2 separate regions of the Homo sapiens genome follow, and region 1 is linked to region 2. The links come from fine-mapping of genetic effects on gene expression. Tissue or cell type: whole blood. Region 2 holds a variant in brackets; the other region holds the start of a gene. All regions are shown on one strand. Distances are between the middles of the regions.

Evidence for each region. PIP is the estimated chance that this variant, and not a neighbour inherited with it, causes the effect.
Region 1: it holds the start of OCRL, and the variant in region 2 is the best candidate, but not a certain one, in a credible set for the expression of OCRL in whole blood (TOPMed, PIP 0.90).

Annotation. Positions count from the first base shown.
Region 1 is chrX:129,534,371-129,545,194 of GRCh38, forward strand. It overlaps OCRL (OCRL inositol polyphosphate-5-phosphatase), which reads left to right and starts at 5,889. Exons shown (of 24, transcript NM_000276.4): 1 at 5,889-6,108; 2 at 6,374-6,453; 3 at 10,588-10,667. The coding sequence starts at 6,070. RefSeq lists an enhancer at 5,722-6,016 and silencers at 5,733-5,792, 5,903-6,102.
Region 2 is chrX:129,570,408-129,581,231 of GRCh38, forward strand. OCRL (OCRL inositol polyphosphate-5-phosphatase) reads left to right here. Exons shown (of 24, transcript NM_000276.4): 16 at 4,733-4,843; 17 at 5,490-5,655; 18 at 5,910-6,145. Among named protein-coding and RNA genes, the nearest start is that of OCRL, 36 kb to the left of the region's middle. The variant C/T (reference allele first, on the strand shown) is at 5,829.

The sequences.
Region 1 (10,824 bases), 36 kb before region 2:
TTGTATTTAGCCATAACTCAATTTTCTTTTTAAGGATTTCTGAAGTGCTTGAGAAATTTTTATGAGCTATATAAGAATTTTGATCAGATAAATGCAGCTTCTGGGTCTGATGAGTGTTATGTTGGGAATTTTTAGAATTGTAATCATTTTATGCTCTGATTTCAATCATCAGCATGTCTTTGATTCTTTATGGATATATATTAAACAGCTTATGTATCATTTTTTATAAATTAACACTCCATAAAGGTCAAGACCAAGATGGCAAGCTAGCAGTGTTCAGCTAAATGATCGACTAAGTATTTGAGTCATGGACACATCCATTTGATTGCCACTAACTGCTGCACATGTTCAAATCTGAAGGGAAATGATGGGCAGAGCATAAAGTTTATAAAGAGTTTCCTTGGGAGATAACTCTGGAATGATGCATTCAGGACAGATCCTTGGAGCTTTAATGCCAGGCTGATGCCATATTCTTTCAGTTCAGCATCTCCAATTTCTGAGAGGAAGAGGCAAGCAGGCCTGGGCAATGCTGACCTGCCTATGGGATTCACTAAGCAGAAAGGAGAGCCTAGCCTTGGTGAATGTGATAGGGGTAGAGAATGAAGGAAATTAAGAAACTAGCCCGCATAGAAATAAAGTAGCAAAGGGAAAGAAGGGCCTGGAGGGCATTGTGTGCCGAAGGAGGCCAGTTTTTCCTGCTTGCTGTGCCTGTCGCCATTTCACCAAGAGTATAGGTGATAGGCTGTGGCCCCAAGTAATGAGCTTTTCTCACCCCAAACTCTATAAGGAATGAAAATAGACATAAATAACATAGAAATGTGTAAGTGGAAATATAGAAATGCAAAACAGAAATATGTAAATAAAAATGAACTCTTTATGTTGCTCTGTATGGAAAGCCATACCCATGCTGGATTTGTGTATATGAAAAGGGAGGCTTTTCAACTAGTGGGGATTTAAAAATAAATGAATCATTTATGCCTCCACTTGGCCTGCCTTCCAGCCTCTGGCTGCTGACTCACCTATACAAAATCTTCCTTCCCAGCCTCATCTATGTTAGGCAGGCCTGTTTTTGCCTTCGCAGGCCCTAAACACTGTCACTTGTGGAGACTTCAGCCAACATCATAATAAACATATTAAAATGCATCCACATCCTGCATTAAACATTTATATTTTTGCTATAAATTTTTGAAAATGCTTTGGTAATTTTGCTTTTGAAATTATTTGTCTGTGCATAACTAATTTAATTTACATGGCTGTGATTTCTCCATAAGAATTACATGTACGTGGGAATTCTTGGGAAGTGAGAAGATCCAACCTAAAAATCGTCTTCAAATATAATGGGTTTTTAAATGCATAATAAATTTAACTGTTAATGAACTTGATATACTGTTCTATTTTGTATGCCATTTAATTATTATTTTTGAATTTGTCATTTTAGTATTTTGTAGCCTTTACTTAAAAACAAATTTTTTTAGAGACAGAGTCTCCTTCTGTCGCCCAGGCTGGAGTGCTGTGGCACAATCATAGCTCACTGCAGCCTTGAACTCCTGGGCTCAAGTGATCCTCCTGCCTCAGCCTCCCGAGTAACTGGGACTGTAGGCACATACCACCATGCCCAGCTAATTTTATTTTATTTTATTTTTGTAGAGATGGGGGTCTCGTTAGATTGCCCAGGCTGATCTCAAACTTCAAATGGTCCTTCTGCTTTGGCCTCCCAAAGTGCTGGGATTGTAGTTGTGAACCACTGTGCTCGGCTCTAGTCTTTTTTAAAGATCCTGTTTTTTTTAATTTTGTTTCTGAAAAGCCTGTAAGTTCTAGACACTTAGTGATAGTTGCCTAATAGATAAAAGACAGGCACTGAGCACCCACTGAATTTGTGTGTGTTTGTGTATGTGTGTACACGCACGCATGTGCAGATGGTGGTGGTAAAGGTGGTGAGATTCATGTTTTCTTGAAGCCAGAGTTTCATTTATTTGAATTTTATTCAATTGTCTTTTAACTCTTTGCATTGGAAGCCACTTATATGCAACCATCATTTCCCCTGTGAGAGACCTCAGTTTTTAGTGTCCTTACCTCAATATATTTTAATTTCCACACAACCTCTTATTCTTCACTTAACAAATATTTATTGAGTGCCCACTATGTGCAATGCACTGTTTAGGTGCTGAGGATACTGTAAAGTTGGAGGAAGAAGTATCTCGCCTTTTCCCTAAGGCCGATTCCGCCATCTACATCTTGGATCTTTGTCCCTCTCAATTACTGAGGGATTTTGCTTGCAACCTTACTGCCTCTCTCTTCTAGCATCTTAAAAGGCCCCCTCTGGCCGGGCGCGGTGGCTCACGCCTGTAATCCCAGCACTTTGGGAGGCCGAGGCGGGTGGATCATGAGGTCAGGAGATCGAGACCATCCTGGCTAACAAGGTGAAACCCCGTCTCTACTAAAAATACAAAAAATTAGCCGGGCGCGGTGGCGGGCGCCTGTAGTCCCAGCTACTCGGGAGGCTGAGGCAGGAGAATGGCGTGAACCCAGGAAGTGGAGCTTGCAGTGAGCCGAGATTGCGCTACTGCAGTCCGCAGTCCGACCTGGGCGACAGAGCGAGACTCCGTCTCAAAAAAAAAAAAAAAAAAAAGGCCCCCTCTTTGTTGGTTCCTTCCTCTTTGCTTTAAAGTGGCTTCAGGCTTTGTCAACAACCTCTGTTTGACCCTTCTAACTAATTTAATTAAAATTGTACTTCGTTCCTTTTTATTTCCAAACCTCTTCAATCTGTGGTCTCTTGTCTCCGTTTTCTCACAATACAGTTCCTCCTCAATTCCCCATAATCTTGTTTCTATCCTCACCACTTATTGAAACCAAACAATTATTGGTCTCCAGTGAACTCCTTGACACGTCCAAAGAAAGTCTCTTTGGCCCTCATTTTCTTGTCCTATTTTCAGCATTTGATACTGCTAACCTCCCCTGCATATTCCTTCTTTATCTTTCGTTTTCATTGACTGCAAATGATTTTCAGTGCAGGAAAGTACATGGAATAACAGAACCAATATATGTACCCACCACCCAGTTCTATCAAATCTTGCAACATCACTTTTCAGATTCTGTTTTGAGAAATAAATATTAGATATATTTGATATTCTCTGTATGCCTCCCCCGAGTGTCAATCCTCTCCCTCTCTTAAATTTGGTGATCATGCCCTTTCATGTTTTATATACTATTACAGTACTACTCATCTATGTAGCCATAAGCAATAGATGATATTTTCAGACTTTATATACACAGTATACTGTACATGTTTTGCAATTTGCTTTTCACTCAACATTATATTTTTGAAATTTAGCTGTTACTACCCATAGCTCAAATTCATTCATCGAGAACACCATTATTTATTCATTCACCTGCTGACATTTACTTGGCTTCCATTTTTGAGATTACAAATAATACTGCAATGAACATTCTTTTATATGTCTCTTTGTGCATATAAAAGGTAGAGTTTTGCCAGTGTCTATATCTAGAAATAGAATTTCTAGATTGAGGGGTATTGCCTTTATTAGACATCGTCAAATTGTTCTTCATAGCAGTTCTACCAACTTAAACTCCTTCTAGCCGTAAATCAGAGTTCCACTGCTAGAACTTCAACAACACTTGGGGTTGTCTGACTTTTTAAATTTTCACAAAACCGATGGTTGTGAAATGGTATCTCGTGGTTTTACTTTTCAATTTCCCTGAATAGTAATAAAGTTAGGCATCTTTTCATGTCTTTATTGGCCATCTGGGTTTCCTTGACTATGAATTACTTACTCAGATATTTTGTCAATTTTTCTATTAGGTTTCTTTCTTATTTATAGGAGTTCTTATATATCCTGGATACCAAGTCATTCATTCATTTAATCAATATTTTTCTAGCACCTACTTGGCTCCAAGAATGGTTCTAGGCACTGAGAATGCAGCTATGATCAAAACAGACAAAATCCTTGCACTCATGGAACTCAACATTCTAGCGGGTGAAGGTAAATGACCAATAATATTGATAAATAAAACAGAAGTGGTAGATAGTGATACATAAGCAGGGAAGAGGGATAGGGAACATGTATGTGTGGTGATGGAGAAGGGGATTGTTGAATTACAATTTTCAATAAAGTGGTCTAGGAAGGCTTCAGTGAGAAAGTGACATTTGAGCAAAGACCTGAAGGAGGTGAGAGTGCATGCAGAGTGAACAGCAAGTGTAAAGGCCCTGAGGTAAGAGTGTGCCTGGCAAGTCCTAGCAACAACAAGGAGTCAGTGTGACTAAGCAAAGCTAGTTAGGGAGAGTGGTGGGAAATGGTGGGAGATGTCCGAAAGGTGATGACAGCTTGTCTTTTTTTTTTTTTTTTTTTTTTGAGACAAGGTCTTGCTCTGTCACCCAGGCTGGAGTGCAGTGGCGCCATCACAGCTCACTGTAGATGTGACCTCGCTGGCTCAAGGGGATGCTCCCACCTCAGCCTCCTGAGTAGCTGGGACTGCAAGCACTTGCCACCACATCCAGCTAATTTTTATAGTTTTTGTAGAGACAGGGTTTTGCCACGTTTCCCAGGCTGGTCTTGAACTCCTGGGCTCAAGTGATCCTACCACCTCGGCCTCCCAAAGTGCTGGGATTACAGGCATGAGCCACTGTGCAGGCCAGTTTGTCTTTTAACTTGTTTATATTGTCTTAAAGTACATACATTTTGAAATTTCATGTAGCTAAATGTCTTATTCTCATTCCATATTCCAAGCTCATACTCAATTTTTTTTTCTGAAAGTTATAAAGTTTTGCTTTTCACATTTAGATCTTTAATCCACCTGGAACTGATTTTTCTTCCATGGTTTGAGGTAGGGGTCTAATTTTTATAATTTTCCATATGGATAAGCAGTAGTCCTAGTACCACTTAGTGGATAATCCATTCTTTCCCCACTGATTTGAAATGTCCCACACGCTGCATATCAACCTTCCGTATATGTGTGGTCTGTTTGAGGGGTTTATATTGTGTTTCATTGATTGTCTATCTCCACAGCATACTTTTAATTACTACAGATTTACAGTCACTCTTGATATCTAGTGTATTATAGATTCTGGAGCAAATGAATAACACGATCGAAAAATTACTTTGGGAAAAATATTTTTATGGCTGTCAACAGAGTAAACATGTCAAAGGAAAGAGTAAACCCAACAGGATTTATTTAAAGAAAAGTGCAATAACCCAGATAGGCTATCACAAGGGCTTACAATAAAGTTATGGCAGTGTGAATGGAGAGAAAATAAGGAATCTAAAAGTAATTCCACGTAAAATATTAACAGGGTGTGTTGACTGATTGGATATAGAGATGAGGAGGGGGAAGACGATATATGGCTTTCCAGTGAAATGATAATGAGTTAGTTTTGTGACGCAGTGATGTGTTAACAATGGACTCTATTAGGTAAGAGGTCTGGGCCAGGGATATATATTTGGACATTGTCTAGTTAGAGGTGAACTGGAGGGGACGCAGAGGAGGAGCAAAGGTCTGGGCTTTGGGGAATTCTCCGATTTAGGGCGTGGAAGAAAGAAGAGGAAAGGAAATGGTAGGATAACCAACACGGGACATTATAACCTTAAGAAATATATATATATATATATATGTATTTTTTTACTGAATGATGTGGGTCGTATTGACACAACAGGTTTGAGATCTCCCATAGGTATGACTGTGTTTTGTTTCTGTGGCCTTCAAAGTCCTCAGAACAATTTTGATGTCACAGGTGGCATTTAAAACCCATTCCTTGCTGGACCTGGTAGAGACGCCCCCAGTCCGTCAGGTCTCTCGCTGCAGTTCCGCAGTTTGACCGCAGGGGACGGAATCTGCGGCGGCCTGGAAAACTGGCGGGGGCGCGAGGCGCCGCTCTCTCTTGGGTCAGATTCTCAGCTCCCAGCTCCCCGCTCCCGGCTCCCGGCGCCCGGCGCCCGGCGCGGAGCTGTTCCTCAAACGACACGCAGCCGAGGTGGGTGGGTGTGGGGACGCGGGAGCCAGTGTCGTCGGATCGGCCCGCAGTCCGCTGTCCTGCTGAGCCCGGAGGCCGCCTGGATGGAGCCGCCGCTCCCGGTCGGAGCCCAGCCGCTTGCCGTATCCGCCGGAGAGAAGGGAGAGGGGAGGCCGCGCAGGGCCGGGGGTGGGGGTCGGGGGCCCTGCGGAACACGGTGGGGCGGGGCAACCGGGTGGCCCAGAGGCCGAGCAGAGAGGGGGAGGGGGCCGGCGCGGGAGACGAAGCAGGGCGGGGCGGGGCGGGGGAGGGCGGCGGTGGGGGGGGGGTGGAAGACCCCCTTCGCCCCGCAGTGCACCACTCCTCCCCACCGCGCTTCCGAAGGAGACCCTTGACTAGCGCCCGCATACTGTCGAGGGTATGGAGATGAAGGGTCCTCTCCGGGAGCCCTGCGCCCTGACCCTAGCCCAGAGGAACGGGCAATATGAGTAAGTAACCACCTGATTCCCACAGAGGAGGGGAGCCTGCCATTACCTCCCAACCCCAAACCGCGACGGGTCACCCACTGTCCTCCTACTGAAGCCACGCGGGCAACAGGTTCAGGTCCAGGTGTGAAGTGCCAGTGCTCTCTAACCTCGGGGCTTTGTCCCCAACTTCCAAGCCTCTGGATTGTGCTTGGCAGTGTGGCTCAGTGGAAGGACTGAATGGGCGGGGAAGCAGGAAGCCTGGGTTCTTAGTTCCTGCCCCTGCAACTGACATGTGTTGTGTAACGTTGGGCAAGTCAATAAAGCTTTCTGGGCCAAAGTTAACTCTTCAGTTTAATAAAACCATTAACTGCCTTACCTTACAGCCTTTGGAATTATAACTGGGGGAAAAATAAATGCGAGAGTGGCTTCCAAAAAGTAAAAGTGCTATGGAAATGCTTCATTGTTAACGTTACAGACTTGTCTTAACCCTATTCAGCTGGTTTCTCCAGTCTCCCCGTCCCCTTATCCCACTGGGTTGAAGGCATATTCATTAATTCAGTAATGGTTTAGTGTAGGCCAGAAACTGCCTCACTTACTGACTTTACTGTTAGAAAGAAAAGGTAATGAAATGTGTAGAGATAGAAATGACAGTATTTTATCAGTGTGTCACCTTCCTCTCTGCCATAGGAGCTCCGTAAATACTGTTGACTGATTGATCAAAAGATTATTTTGATAAGCTATCACCATAGCTGCTAACCTCACTCTATTGTCACTAATATCTTATCTCAAAAATATCCATGGTGACCATTACGTATCATAGGCCCCTATCCCTGTGTGCCCAAGACACCTCACTTGGATATTCATTGGCTTCTTGACATCATATTCCTTCCCAGTTTAAAAATTGTTCACTTAAATCTTGCCATCTCCCAACATTGGCTTCTGCCTAAAACCAATTTTCTCAGTCCCCACTTTTAGATCCTCTGTATCTATGCTGTCAGATTTACACGGAAGAAATTCCCACTGGCCCAACCTGCTCTTCTCTGAGACTATTGGTGCCACTCTAACTGGATGTCAGCTAATTCTGTGAAGTAGCTCTTTCATAGGTCCTGCTTAGTCAGCTCTACTGGGAAGTTCATCAAACCCGGATTTCATCAAACCCTGGAAGACTAGTTTAATGAAACTAAACTAAATTCAGAATTTAATAAAACAAAATTCAGCAGAAAAGTGGAACACCACTAACATTTCCAAAGGCTAGAGTGGGTTACAGAGAGGTGACCCTTGGGCAAACCAGTAAAACTTGTGTGCCTTGGTTTCCTCTAATGTAAAAACAAAATCATGAAGATTGAATAGAGTAGCTACATTGTTGAGATGACCACAGCCCAGAATCTAGTCCCTCGGATTAGTAGATTTGGAACTCTGTTGAGCTAATAAGGAAGTCGTGTGTTCCAATTCTGTGTAAGTTATGGGGGTATAGTTGGGGGTATATGTGGGGGTATGGGGCTGCTATATAACTAACATTAATATATAGGTAACACTATATAACAACTATATAACTAACAACTAATATAGTTGTTGCTATATTAGCAGTTTATATATAAACTATGTAAATAGTTTTAAATATATATAAACTATAGTTTTAAATACATATAAACTATAGTTTATATATAAACTAACATATAACTAACAACTAATATAGTTGTTGCTATATAACTAACATTCAATGGCTGCTTATGTGCCAGGTACTGTTCTAAGCCCTTTTCATTAGTTAGTTCATTTAATCCACATGTGAGGGTTACTATAAGATAGTAATATCATCATCCCCCTTTTATAGATACAGAAATTGAAGCACAGACAGGTTAAGTCACTTGTTTGCAATTAGGGAGTAGAATACCTGAGATCTGATCCTATGTAACATGTCTCAGAATTACACTGAGAAGTTTCTCTTGAAAGCATTTGCTGGAGACACCTAATACCATAATACCATCTGTAATCCTCATATTCTTGTCTCTCTGGTGTCTTTTCTGACTCGAGTGTCCAGAACTTTTTACTTTTGGCTTTTTTATCCTAGAACTTGAAGCCTGACTTAAATCTTTAGGTCTGTGGTTCCTACTGTCAACCATAGGAAATTTGCTTGACCAAAATTACAATTAAAAATCAGGGTTTTTTTGGAAACAGGGAATCAAACACTTAAGATTCATATTTTTCAAGGATAATAGATTATGACAAAACCTGTTTGACCTTTAACCTTCCTTGAACAAATCAAAGTGTTTCCTAGGGATAAGGCAGAGTTGGCATTCAGGATTTGTCACTCTTTTCTGTTTGACAACTACCAAATTCTGAATTCCATTGTTTTGCTGTATACCAATTATTTCTAATCTTTATATTCTGAAATGAATAATTACACTCAGAATTTTTATGCTTATTCTTAGCCCTACTCTTTTATTGTAATTTAGTGGGTAACACGTAGTAAATACTCAATAAATGTTGGTGAAATTCACTTAAATTCTCAGTTTATTTGTTTTGTAATAGTTTTTAACAGTACTGTCCAGATGAAGCTTTAATGCTAATGTTCAACACCATTTCTTGTTTATGTATTTTGAGATTTTAGTGGTTTGTGTTTATCTTCCTCAAAGTAAGCTCTTCCTCCTTAACCCTTGATTTCTCAGCCTTTTATCTGGTTTCTGGTTTCCATCTGGGTTTATAGGACTCTCCACTCAACTCATGAACTTTCCAGATGGAAAGGGGCCTGCCCCATATTCCTGTAATCACCTTAGAGTACAAACCCCTGCAAATTAGGCAAGAAGGATCACAGCAGAAAAACAGCATTAATACTTTTATTTCCCTTAGTTCTATCTAAGTAATTACTTATCCTATCCCAGGTTATCCTCTTCAAAGTTAACACATTTGAAAATGCAAAAAGCAAAAGCAACAAGCACCCCCAAAAGACAACAAAATAGAAATCAAACCCTTCAAAACAATGACATTTTAATGTCAGAAGTTGGACAGTTTCATTGAAAAATTCACCGCTGCTTATAGCTTAATTAAGCTAGTTAATTTATTCAGCCAGTATTTGTTGAGCATCTATTAGGCTGCAGACAAAACTGAATATGATCTGGTCTTTGCTTTCAAGGAGCTGAAATCAGTGAGGGGAAATAAATATAACCATAATGGAGTGTGTAAGTGTTCTATTAGAGGGGCAAACAAAGGCGATAAGGCTGCTGGTTCTGCTTGGGGGTACTGAGGACAGTTTCATGGAGGAGGTGATATTTGAGATGAAACTCGGAAAGAAACAGAGTGTTCCTGACAAAAAACTAAAAACAATACTTGAAGAGTGCTTGACTTTGAGAATGCTAGTTGACGTTCAGAATGGCTGTTTACCAGTAGGTCGTACCTTGATTCTGGACCACTAAGGATAAATAATAAATGAAAAATTAATATTTCAGGAGTACGTATGGATTTAGAAGTATGGATTTCATCTGGGGAGTCAGGTTTACTCATGTTTATGTAGAAATACCAGCGTAAACTTGGAAACCAGAGAAGAAACAAGGGATTTGAAGGCAATCCAGTTGTGATATCTGCCACCTTGTTGGTCACTGATATTTTGACCAATCCAGCTGGCTGAGCACCCCCTCTTACTCCTCCATGAACCTGAATGCTTGTTTGAAGAGACAGATCCATTCTTTGGTAAAAAGCCATGGGAATATAATTGGAAGGTTAATTTATGAATTTTCTAATTCATTGATTCCACACACACGAGCAACTCCTGTGTGCCAGGCTTTGTGCTAGGTACTAGAAATTCCGTGGTGTAAAGATAGCTGTGGTCCCTGCACTCATGGACTTCACATCTAGCTGTCAGTTCTTCACTCTGGTATGCATACTCTGAAGCTATATACTCTGTAATTCATGCTCTTAAGCTTGTACACTGTTTTTAGGATATATGGCCTAGAGAACAGTGTGGGTAATCAGATGTTCATCACCACTAGCATCCTTTTAGGCCTAGAGCAATATCTAGCTGTCATGATGCTCAGATCCAGGGAACTAGATGCAGCAAGTCTAGTAAATACAGACTAGATTTGTATAACAGGACAGTGAAGTATTTTTTTGCTAAATGAGTTTTTCAGTGGCTGTTCTTTGATGCGTTCTTCTGTTTCCTAGGTTAATAATCCAGTTGCATGAGAAGGAACAGCATGTTCAAGATATCATTCCTATAAATAGCCACTTCAGATGTGTTCAAGGTACTAGCTTTAATTCCTTAGCTAGTTTTATAATGTTTTTTCTCGGTCATTACTGCATTATGTAATACCATACATATTTAAATTTGTCAGTGCATGTAAAATGAAATGTATTACTCTTTGCATAAAAAGATAACATTGAGGAGATGATACTTTCTCT
Region 2 (10,824 bases):
GAGTTCGGACATGTGAAGAGCATAATGGGATAGGTTTCTTTCCTCTGTGTGTGTGTTGATTTAGGGGGCTTCTGAGATAGATATCACCAACCTGTTTTATCCTGCTCCTGTTTTAAGGAAGAAAGACTTTGGGGCTTTTCATTTAAGATCAGAATTATTTATTGGTCTTAGAATAGATTTTAAATTTTATCAAGACAATCATGACTTTACTTTTGTCCATTTTGAAATTTTAAAATAATAATCATTAATAATAGTAACTGTTCCTCAGATAGCAGCTAGTGGCTGTGTGGCAGGGACTATGTGAGGCAATTTGCACACATCTCATTTACTCCTCACAACAACGCTTTGAGTTAAATACAGTTGATCCTTCAACAACATGGGTTTGAACTACACAGATCCACTTATATCCAGATATTTTCAACCAAATGCAGATGGAAAATACAGTATTCACAGGATGTGAAACCCACGTATAAGGAGGGCCAACTGTGGGACTTGAGTATGCGTGAATTTGATTATACACAGGCCATGCCAGAATCAATCCCCCACAGATCTCAAGGGACAACTGTATTTCCCATTTAACAGATGAGCAGATGGAGAACAGCAAGTTGAAATAACTTATTTAAGAGCATTCAACTAGGAGGAGAGCTGAGATTCCAATCTTAAGTTGGCTTAACTCCCAACTCTGTGCTCTTTCTACTACCCCACAATACCTCTATAATTCTATAGAACTTGATGAAATATACCTTTAGATAACTTCTTTTAGCCCATCTAATTTCTAGTTTGTACTTGCAGGCTGCCCCTTTTTCTTCATTTGAATTCTCTTAATCCATTTTGAGAGGGTATCTTTCCTCAAACACTAACCTCTTTGGTTAGATCAGGTATGCCTGGCTTTTTTGTTTACATTTCTTTTCAAAACCTTCAGATTTTTTTGTTTGTTTTTGTTTTTTGTTTTTTGGTTTTTTTTTTTTTTTTTTTGAGACAGAGTCTCGCTCTGTCACCCAGGTTGGAGTGCAGTGGCACGATCTTGGCTCACTGCAAGCTCCGCCTCCTGGGTTCACGCCATTCTCTTGCCTCAGCCTCCCGCCCAGCTAATTTTTTGTATTTTTAGTAGAGACGGGGTTTCACCATGTTAGCCAGGATGATCTCGATCTCCTGACCTTGTGGTCCACCCGCCTCAGCCTCCCAAAGTGCTGAGATTACAGGCATGAGCCACCGCTCGCAGCCAACCTTGGGATGTTTTTAATACTCCATACACATTAATGCAGAGCTTCTAGTGGGATATTTACATTTTTTTTCAGGCTTCCTGTGTATTTATGTATATCTTTAATAAAGATATGCCTTTTGAGTTTTTAATGATTTTTAAATTATACAGCAATGACAAGTGCTTTTAAAAAAATTAAAAGGAAATTTAAGCAGAATTGACAGATAAGGCAGAAGTTCTTCAATCCCTGTTCTGTCTCCTACTCCCAACTTTGCCTAAACCCCCATTCCCCAGCCAGGCCACTACCCTTAGGAGTTTATATCTTTCTAGACCAGTGCTGTCCAATAGAGCTTTCTGTGATGATGGAAATGTCCTGTATCTGTGCTGTCCAGTCCAGTGGCTTCTAGCAGCAGGGGGCTATTGAGTACTTGAAGTGTGGCTAGTGCAACTGAGAACTGAACTTCTAATTTAATTTAATTTAAAGTAATTTAAATTCAAATTCCCTATGTGGCTAGTCACTATTGTACTGGACAGTGCAGTTCTAGACCTTTGTATATGCTTTTTTGTTCACTCATAGACAAAATACTGATTTGTGTGTGTCTCTATATCATAAACGGTCTTATATGTATGTGTTGGTCTGCAACTTGATTTTTTTTTTTAACTCAGCAGTGTGTCTTGGAGAACCTCCCATCTTATTACATAAAGACCTAGCTCATTGTACTTTTTTTCAAATTCCTAATTTTGTCAGTAATTTCCTTTACTAAAATGGATGTGTCAGGTTGTGAAATTCTTTGGGGTTCCCCCCCTCCTCATTATCTTTGATTTGCCATTAAGTGCTGTGATCATGATAACCCGCTGAGAAAAAGTTTGATTTTATTGAGTAATCACCCCATGTTTTGGATTCTTGGGCATGCTATGATTAGAGGCTTTAAAAACCACACTATATTTTCACCACCATTGGCACCAATGACTGTTAACAAAGGAGCCAAGTGCACCGTGGCCAATTAATTTCAGAAGACTTTCTGTGGGCTGGCTGAGATAGAGCTAGGATAGGGTTCCAACCCTGCACTTGGTACTGTGATCTGTTGCATTGGTTCTCAGACTTCAGTGGATGTAAGAATTGCTTAGAGAGCTTTAAAAAAAGTGTGGATGCATGTGTCCTCACCCCTAGAGGCTGTGATTAGTAGACCCAGGCAGCTGTGCTTTTAAGACATACTCAAGTTGATTCTGTCACATATCTAGTATATTGGAAAGAGTCTTAAACTAGTCCAGATGTCACCTTTGGTATTCACTGTAGCAGTGAGCAAGTTTGTTGATTGTTTTGTATCTTAATGTTCTCAACTATCGGAACAAAAATATTCCTTGCTTTGGTAGCCTTCCAGGTTGTGAAAATAAAAAGACATGTGCAAAATACTTTTGGAAATTAAAAGTTGCAAAGTTTTGTAAAAGTATAAAATTCATCTTAAACTAATGCTATACTATGGACCCTGGTGATGGTAAAGTGATTGTTTGATCCTCGGTTCTCTAAGAGTTACAGTTCAAATATGTGAAAAACTTCCCCAGTCTGAGATACTTGACTCAGCTTTGATGTTCTTATTTTCAACATTTTAAAAAATTTTTATTTCACTTCAAGTTGTGGGATACAAGTGCAGAACGTATAGGCTTGTTACATAGGTATGTGTGCCATGTTGGTTTGCTGCACCTATCAACCCATCATCTAGGTTTTAAGCCCCACGTGCATTAGCTATTTAACCTTAATGCTCTCCTTCCCCTCGCCCCACTACCCCGAGTGGCCTGGTGTGTGTTGTTCCCCTCCCTGTGTCCATGTGTTCTCATTCTTCAACTCCCACCTATAAGTGAGAATATGCGGTGCTTGGTTTTCTGTTCCTGTGTTAGTTTGCTAAGGATGATGGCTTCCAGCTTCATCCATGTCCCTGCAAAGGACATGACTTTTTTTATTTTTTGAGGTGGAGTCTTGCTCTGTTGCCCAGGCTGGAGTGCAGTGGTGCAATCTTGGCTCACTTCAACCTCCGCCTCCCGGGCTCAAGGGATTCTCCTGCCTCAGCCTCCCAAGTGACTGGGATTACAGGCACCCACCACCATGCCTGGCTAATTTTTTTTTTGTACTTTTAGTAGAGACAGAGTTTCACCGTGTTGGCTGGGGTGGTTTCGAACTCCTGACCTCTAGTGATCCTCCTGCCTCGGCCTCCCGCAGTGCTAGGATTACAGGTGTGAGCCACTGTGCCCAGCCTGATCTCATTCCTTTTTATGGCTGTATAGTATTCCATGGTGTATATTTACCACATTTTCTTTATCAAGTCTTATTATTAATGGGCATTTGGGTTGGTTCCATGTCTTTGCTATTGTAAGTAGTGCTGCAGTAAACATATGTGTGCATGTGTCTTTATAGTAGAATGATTTATATTCTTTTGGGTATATACCCAGTAATGGGATTGCTGGGTCAAATGGTATTTCTGGTTCTAGATCCTTGAGGAATCGCCACACTGTCTTGCACAATGGTTGAACTAATTTACACTCCTACCAACAGTGTAAAAGCGTTCCTACTTCTCCACAGCCTCACCAGCATCTGTTTCCACATCTTTTTAGAACCTTTGCTGCATGTATCAATTTTTTTTGACATGAATTTTTGTGAAATTTCCTAGTCTAAAAAAGAAACCGATATCTCAAGTTAAAATCTGTTAGTTATGTTAATTTTGGCATTGGTTTGTATGAAGTTTTAATATTTAAAAAAACACAGCTATATCAGGAAGCTGAAAGTGCTGTGTCAGGTGGAAAATTTTTTTATCAGTGGAGATGTGTTTATACGTTGTCATGGTTTTACTCTAGTCTAGGACATTTTGTTTCAGCCATTTTCTAAAATGGCTGTAGGTTCCATTTATTAATATATCTCTGCTATTATGTAATCTGAGCAGTGATATTATACTTCTTGGTATTGTACATAGAATCTAATAGAGTTAAAAGCTTTTTAATAATATTTGCTGCCACCTCACCAAGTTATGATTGTTAGAAACAGTAATTGCTGTGTTTTGACACTGTCATTTTGTACAGTGCAAGCAATCATTTTTACCACAATTATCACATTTTTTCCACTACCAAATAACTTAACAATGAAGCAAGAAAATATTCTTCCCAAATATTTATTATTACCAAGCTTCTTAACGTAGGGGTTTAACTTTTACAGGACGTTAGCCAATTAATCTTACCTTTACCTTAAAGCGTGTGCTTCTATAATGCTTTGTTCAATTTATGTTTGCTTTAGTGACCTTAAAAATTGTTAGAGACTCTTGGAGGTATAAAAGTTGAGAACACATAAAACTAAAGCAAGGATCTGTTTTCTTTCAGGTGCAAGCTGTGGATGAAGCAAGATATAGAGAGTGTTTGAGGATGTTGTTTGCACCACAGTTTATTTTAAATAGTTACTGTAATGACCAGTTTTAAATTGTTAGATAATCTCCAAGGGAGATGAGCTAGAAGGATATAAGACTGAAAAGAGGATACATTTTCTTTCAGGTGAAGGTTGTGGATGAACGAAGGTACCGGAAAGTCTTTGAAGATAGTGTACGCATCATGGACAGAATGGAAAATGACTTCCTTCCTTCCTTAGAACTCAGCAGGAGGGAGGTGAGCAAAAATACATGATCTCCCTGTCTACTGCTCACTGTGGTTAGCACAGAAGAAACTGCTACTTAGAAAAGGCTACATAGCAACGTGGTTAAGCCCATGTCGCTGGAGTCAGACTGCCTCCATTCCAGTTGTAGCACGGCTGTTTAGTAGATGTATGACCTCAGGCAAGTATCTTACCCGCTCAGAGCCGCAGTTTCCTTTCCTGGATTAAGGGGTAGTTGTAAGGATTACATGAGTTAATACATGCAAAGCTCTCAGAACAGCACCCGGCACATAGTAAGCCCTCCGCTGTTAGATGCTCTTATTTAATATTTCAGAGTTGCTAGTTAATTTATATCTCAGAAACCAGGACTTGGTCACAGGATGAATACTCTGAACCAAGGTTGGGTTACCCTCTTAGGATCCTAGGAATGATCAGAGTAGCCTGGAGAAGTAGCAAGAGCCACCTAACTCCTTCTCTGCTGGTGTGAGTATAATAATACATGCAAGTGGATGTTGTGAAGTTGGTTCAGTTGGTGAATGTCTATGGCATTTGCACACCTGCTTAACAATTACCTTACTCCTCATATCCTCTATGGAATAATCCAACTGACTTACTTCCCCTACTAGTGATGCATGTTTGTGTCTGTCTGTTATTCCCCAGTTTGTGTTTGAAAATGTGAAGTTTCGGCAACTACAAAAGGAGAAGTTCCAGATCAGCAACAATGGACAGGTTCCCTGCCATTTTTCTTTCATCCCTAAACTTAATGACAGCCAGTACTGCAAGCCATGGCTTCGGGCTGAACCTTTTGAGGGCTACTTGGAGCCAAGTGAGTTTTCCCTTTACCATTGTCTCTGCTGGTGATGTCATGACTCCCATCCCCTTGGTTTAACTTTCTGTTTTCTAACCACATGTCTCTTACCTTTACTGTCATATTGGTGATACCTCTGGTGTGTGTCCTGTCTCTTCCCCCTCATTGCTTAATGATTTTTTTAGAGGACA[C/T]TTTTCTGTTGGTTCTTATACTCTTTTTTGCTTTCCCACTGGAGGTTTTCCTATTACCATGTATCATCTCTTACATTTCAGATGAGACAGTGGACATTTCTCTTGATGTGTATGTCAGCAAAGACTCTGTAACCATCCTGAACTCGGGAGAAGATAAGATTGAAGATATTCTCGTCCTTCACCTGGATCGAGGCAAAGATTACTTCTTGACTATCAGTGGAAATTACCTCCCAAGTTGTTTTGGCACATCCTTAGAGGCTCTGTGCCGTATGAAAAGACCAATCCGAGAAGTTCCTGTTACCAAACTCATAGACTTGGTAAGAACTGTCCCAAGACATAAACCTCTTTTACATTTAATTTTCACAATACTTAAGTGACGTCCTCATTATCTTTGTGCTTTCTGTCTTCTTTTGGCCACGGGGGATGTCAAATGATAAAGAAGAATGTTACTTTAGCACTGTTTTGATTAGATTAAGCCTAAGGGGAAAGAGGGGGGACTAATCTGCAGTTGGCTCTTGTTGTGAGTACAATACATAATACTAAGCTCACCAAATAAGATTAAAGACTCCCCTCTCAAAGATATAATGCTTGTTTGTTAAGCTCTTCATACTCTCAAGTCACTTTTGTATAAATTAGCATGTACGTGAGGTATGCTAAGTGGGGCAGGCAGAATTATCCTCATTTGAGCATATGAGAAAACTGAGGCACAGAGACATTGACGTGCCCAGAGTCAAATACCATCAGTTAGTAACAAATCTAGCACCCAGATTTCCTGGCTCCCAGTTTAGTATTCCTCACTAATACCACATTATATCTAATCAGAGTAAAACTTTGCTATTTATGGAAGCATAGAACTATCCTGGAACCCTGGAGTACCTGAATCAGAATCCCTGGGGGTGCTTATTACAGGTACCCTCACTTCTGGCAATGGAATCAGAATCTCAGGATATGGAGCCTACAGATCTGCATTTTATCCGCATTCCAGATGCTTATAATGTACATTGAAATTTGATACTTACTTAATGTGATGTGCTTAAGAAAGAAAAGGAGGTTGATTTTCCCACCTCTCCCTCAAGCCAAGCTATAATATTAATGTTTTTATGAAGGAAGTACTTACTATCTTCAGTAACATAAGTTGATTTAGTAATAAAGTTCATTGTATTAAGAAATTTCCTTCTAAATGAAAATATTGTTGGATTGTATGCAGAATCTCTTTGGGCTACAAAAGTATATTCTTGGTTTTTTTACCAAAGAAAATTAGGTGAGGTGACAGCATACGTTATCCTTACCATTAGTATTCACATGGATCCTTTAGGCCTAGCCAGAGCGAGTGATTGTATCTAGCAGGGAGGTCTAGACCAGCAGGCAGGCTGCTGGCTTGTCTGAGTCCGATCTGTTCTGTTGCCATGGAATTGTTTTAGCTGTGACTCAGATAGCAGATTAAAACACTGAGTCCAGCCCCGGCATTCTTTCTTGGAATTATACTTATTTCCCCAGAGCCCTCATGACTGAGTATATTACCTCTGTTTGAGAGAGAACCATTTTCTTCAGAAATTCATATCCTACCGTTCTGCTGTTTTTCATGATAATTGTTTTTCTCCTAACATTATATTTCTGTCTTTTAGATTTTAGTATTTCACCTTTTAGAATACATTTTGGATGATGAAGTTGTTTTTCTTATTTCTCCTACCCCCTTTCCTTCATCTCAGACATTATTTCCCAGCTTTCTTTGTTTCAGCTTTTTATTATGAAAAATGTCAAATGTGCAGAAAAATGGAAAGAACAGTACAACACACCCCCACATGCCTTCTGTACATATATACACACAGATGTTTTTTGCTGTGTCATGTAAAATTTAGTGGTAATATGTCACTTCACCACTGAACACTTCAGCCTGCATCTCTTAACAAAAAGGGCACACTTAAGCACAATACCATTATTATGTATAAGAAAACTAACAGTAATCCATAGTATCATTTAACATTCGGTCCATATTCAGATTTCTTCAGTTGTCCCAAGAATTTCTGTTATACCTTTTTTTAAACCAAAATCCAATCTGGGTTCATATAGTATTTGGTGAGGTCTCTGAAGTCTCTATTGGAGTAGTACAGTTCCTACTTTCTTTAGTGACATTGACTTTTTTAAGAGTCCAGTACAAATGTCCAGTCAAGGGTCAACCATTTCCTAAATTTTTCTGGTTGTTTCCTTCTTGTTTTTTTTTTTTTTAAACTTATCCCATTTATACTCTCTCCTTCCACCTTCATGTAAACAGGAACCTACCCTTATTTTTAGTCAGAGTCAGTGAAGATATTAGAATATCTTTGCCATTAATATGAAAAACTGCAAAGCCATTAATATGAAAAACTTTGCAGTTTTTCATATTCTGGGATTGGCCAGAAGAGGCTCAACCCTCATAAAGTTTTTATTTTATGTAAAGTATACTATCAGGTAATTTTACCATGTTTGCCCATGAACAGAAAGGAACCAAAATCATTAGAGGAATGAATGGCTCTTTGGGAAGCCTTTTTCCTTCTTTTTGTGCACAAGTGATTGAGGGTTAAAATAATAGAACCCTGATCATTTTTAATTACAGAATTTCTGAGTTTTTATTAAATTGTATGTGTGTGGACATCATTTTTCTTTTAAAGCTTTTATTTTGTAGGATTTAGGGTTCTTTTCACAGTCTGTTGCATTTCAGTGTTATTAAATTCCTGTATCTCATTGATGAGGAAATTATCTATACAGGTTGATTATCCATTATCCAAAATGCTTGGGACCAAAAGTGTTTCAGATTTCAATCTTTTTCAGATTTTCAAATATATGCATTATATACTTACCAGTTCAGCTTCCCTAATCTGGAAATCGGAAATCTGAAATGCTTCAATGAGCATTTCCTTTGATCATCATGACAGTACTCAAAAAGTTTCGAGTTTTGGAGCATTTTGGATTTCTGGATTGGGAATACTCAACCTGCATTACTGTGGAGCAGTAAACAAGAAATCTAAAAACAATTAGTATCCCATCTTTAATACCTTCTCACTCTGTTGTGACTTGATTTTGACCTTCTGAAATGATTCCTCAGGTATAGTATTCATGTTTTTTTTCCCCAAGACCCAATATCGTATTTCAAATCTCATGAGATGATGCTGTTAATAATGGTACCTGCCCTCTGTTGTATTATTTGCTCTAAAATTTTGGTAAAGCCAGAAACGAGTTCAATGTATGTGTTGTCTCTCTATGTACTGTTTTAGAAAGATCCTTATGCACTGTTTTAGAAAGATCCTTATGCCACACCATCTTCCCACCAAATGCAGAATGAAATAACTGACATAATTATTTTTCATCCTTCCAGCCCTTTTCATAATAGTGACTTTGCCACTCCTAGAATAGTTGAGATTAGCACAAGTGGGAAACGGATGAAAATCTACCATTTGTAATCATCTTTATTGTTTTTCAGAATTAAGATAGATTTTTCTGTTATATTAACTAGAATATTAAGTAGCAAATAATCCTCAATATTGATTCATTACACACTGGATACAAAGTATTATGGAGTTTATGTGAGTTCCCATAATTTAGTGGTGATGAAAGTATATTTGCACATAAAATATGGCTAAACTTTAAGTCATGGTTAATAGGGAGTTTGGTTAAAGATAATCTGAACATTAACCACCTTTACTGGCTAATGTCTGGTGTGCTTGGTAAGTCAGTATTTTGGAAAGTCGTTTAAAGTGACTGCTATGAAGGTTGTAGTTTGTATTAACAATAGGTTCCTTTCCTATGTTGTTTATTCAAGCCCTTATATGCTATAAAAGCTTATTGACTGACCAGCTAATCCCTATAGAAATCAGAATCAGCCTGTTTTCATTTTAATGAATATTTGATACATGTAACATTAACATGACTGAGAAATAAGTTTAGCACATAAGAATAAAGTGAACTAGGAAGGTGATTTGGAGTTAGTTATAGAAGTATTTTCAGTCAAGTCCAAGTACTTAAGAAACACTTATTAATATAGTGGGTGAGCAGGCTCTTCCAGGCTTAGAGGACATCTTGAATAAAGGGTAGAAGGTGAAAGTGAAAAGACCATGTATGAAAAACTGTAAGATTTCCCTGGGACAAGTGAAGATCAAGGATAAGAATGTATGAAGCTGGTTAGGGAGAATGGGGCAGGTGGTAGAGAGTCTTGAAGTCAATAGATAAGTTTATGCATGAGCCAGAGGGTATCTAGAACCATCAGAAGGGTTTGCTGATTAGTATGAGGTTGCAAATTGATATAGTTGGAAGAACATTCTGGTGTTACTTGTAGAATGGACTAATTGAAAGGAGACAAGACTTGAACTTGCCAGATGTGGCTAAGTTGTAAATACGGAGATGAAAAAAGTTGAGGGATGGGTAGAGAAACTATATTTGCTTGGGGACATATCTGTTGGGAGAACAATATCAAAAGTTTGAAATAACAGGAATAACTTGTTAATTTGTCCGTAGTGTTTTTTTCACTATGTTTTTACTTTGTCTTACTAATCTAACCATCCATTTCTTACTCTGTTAAGTATATGGCTTGTATTTCTTCTCTATTTCATATGAACTAATCCTTTTTAGAACTTCATTTTCCATTCAGTTTTCGGCTATTTATTTATTTATTTTTGAGATGGAGTCTTACCCTGTCGGCCAGGCTGTAGTGCAGTGGCACAATCTTGGCTCACTGCAACCTCCATCTCCCAGTTCAAGTGACTCTCCTGCCTCAGCCTCCCGAGTAACTGGGACTACAGGCGCGCGCCACCACGCCTGGCTAATTTTTGCCTTTTTAGTAGAGATGGGGTTTTACTGTGTTGGCCAGGCTGGTCTTGAACACCTGACCTCAGGTGATCCACCCGCCTCAGCTTCCCAAGGTGCTGGGATTACAGGCGTGAGCCACCGTGCCCGGCTATGCTTTTTATTTTTAAATTTGCATCTTCCACCTCTAATTGACTCTTTTATTTTAGCTGCATTTACC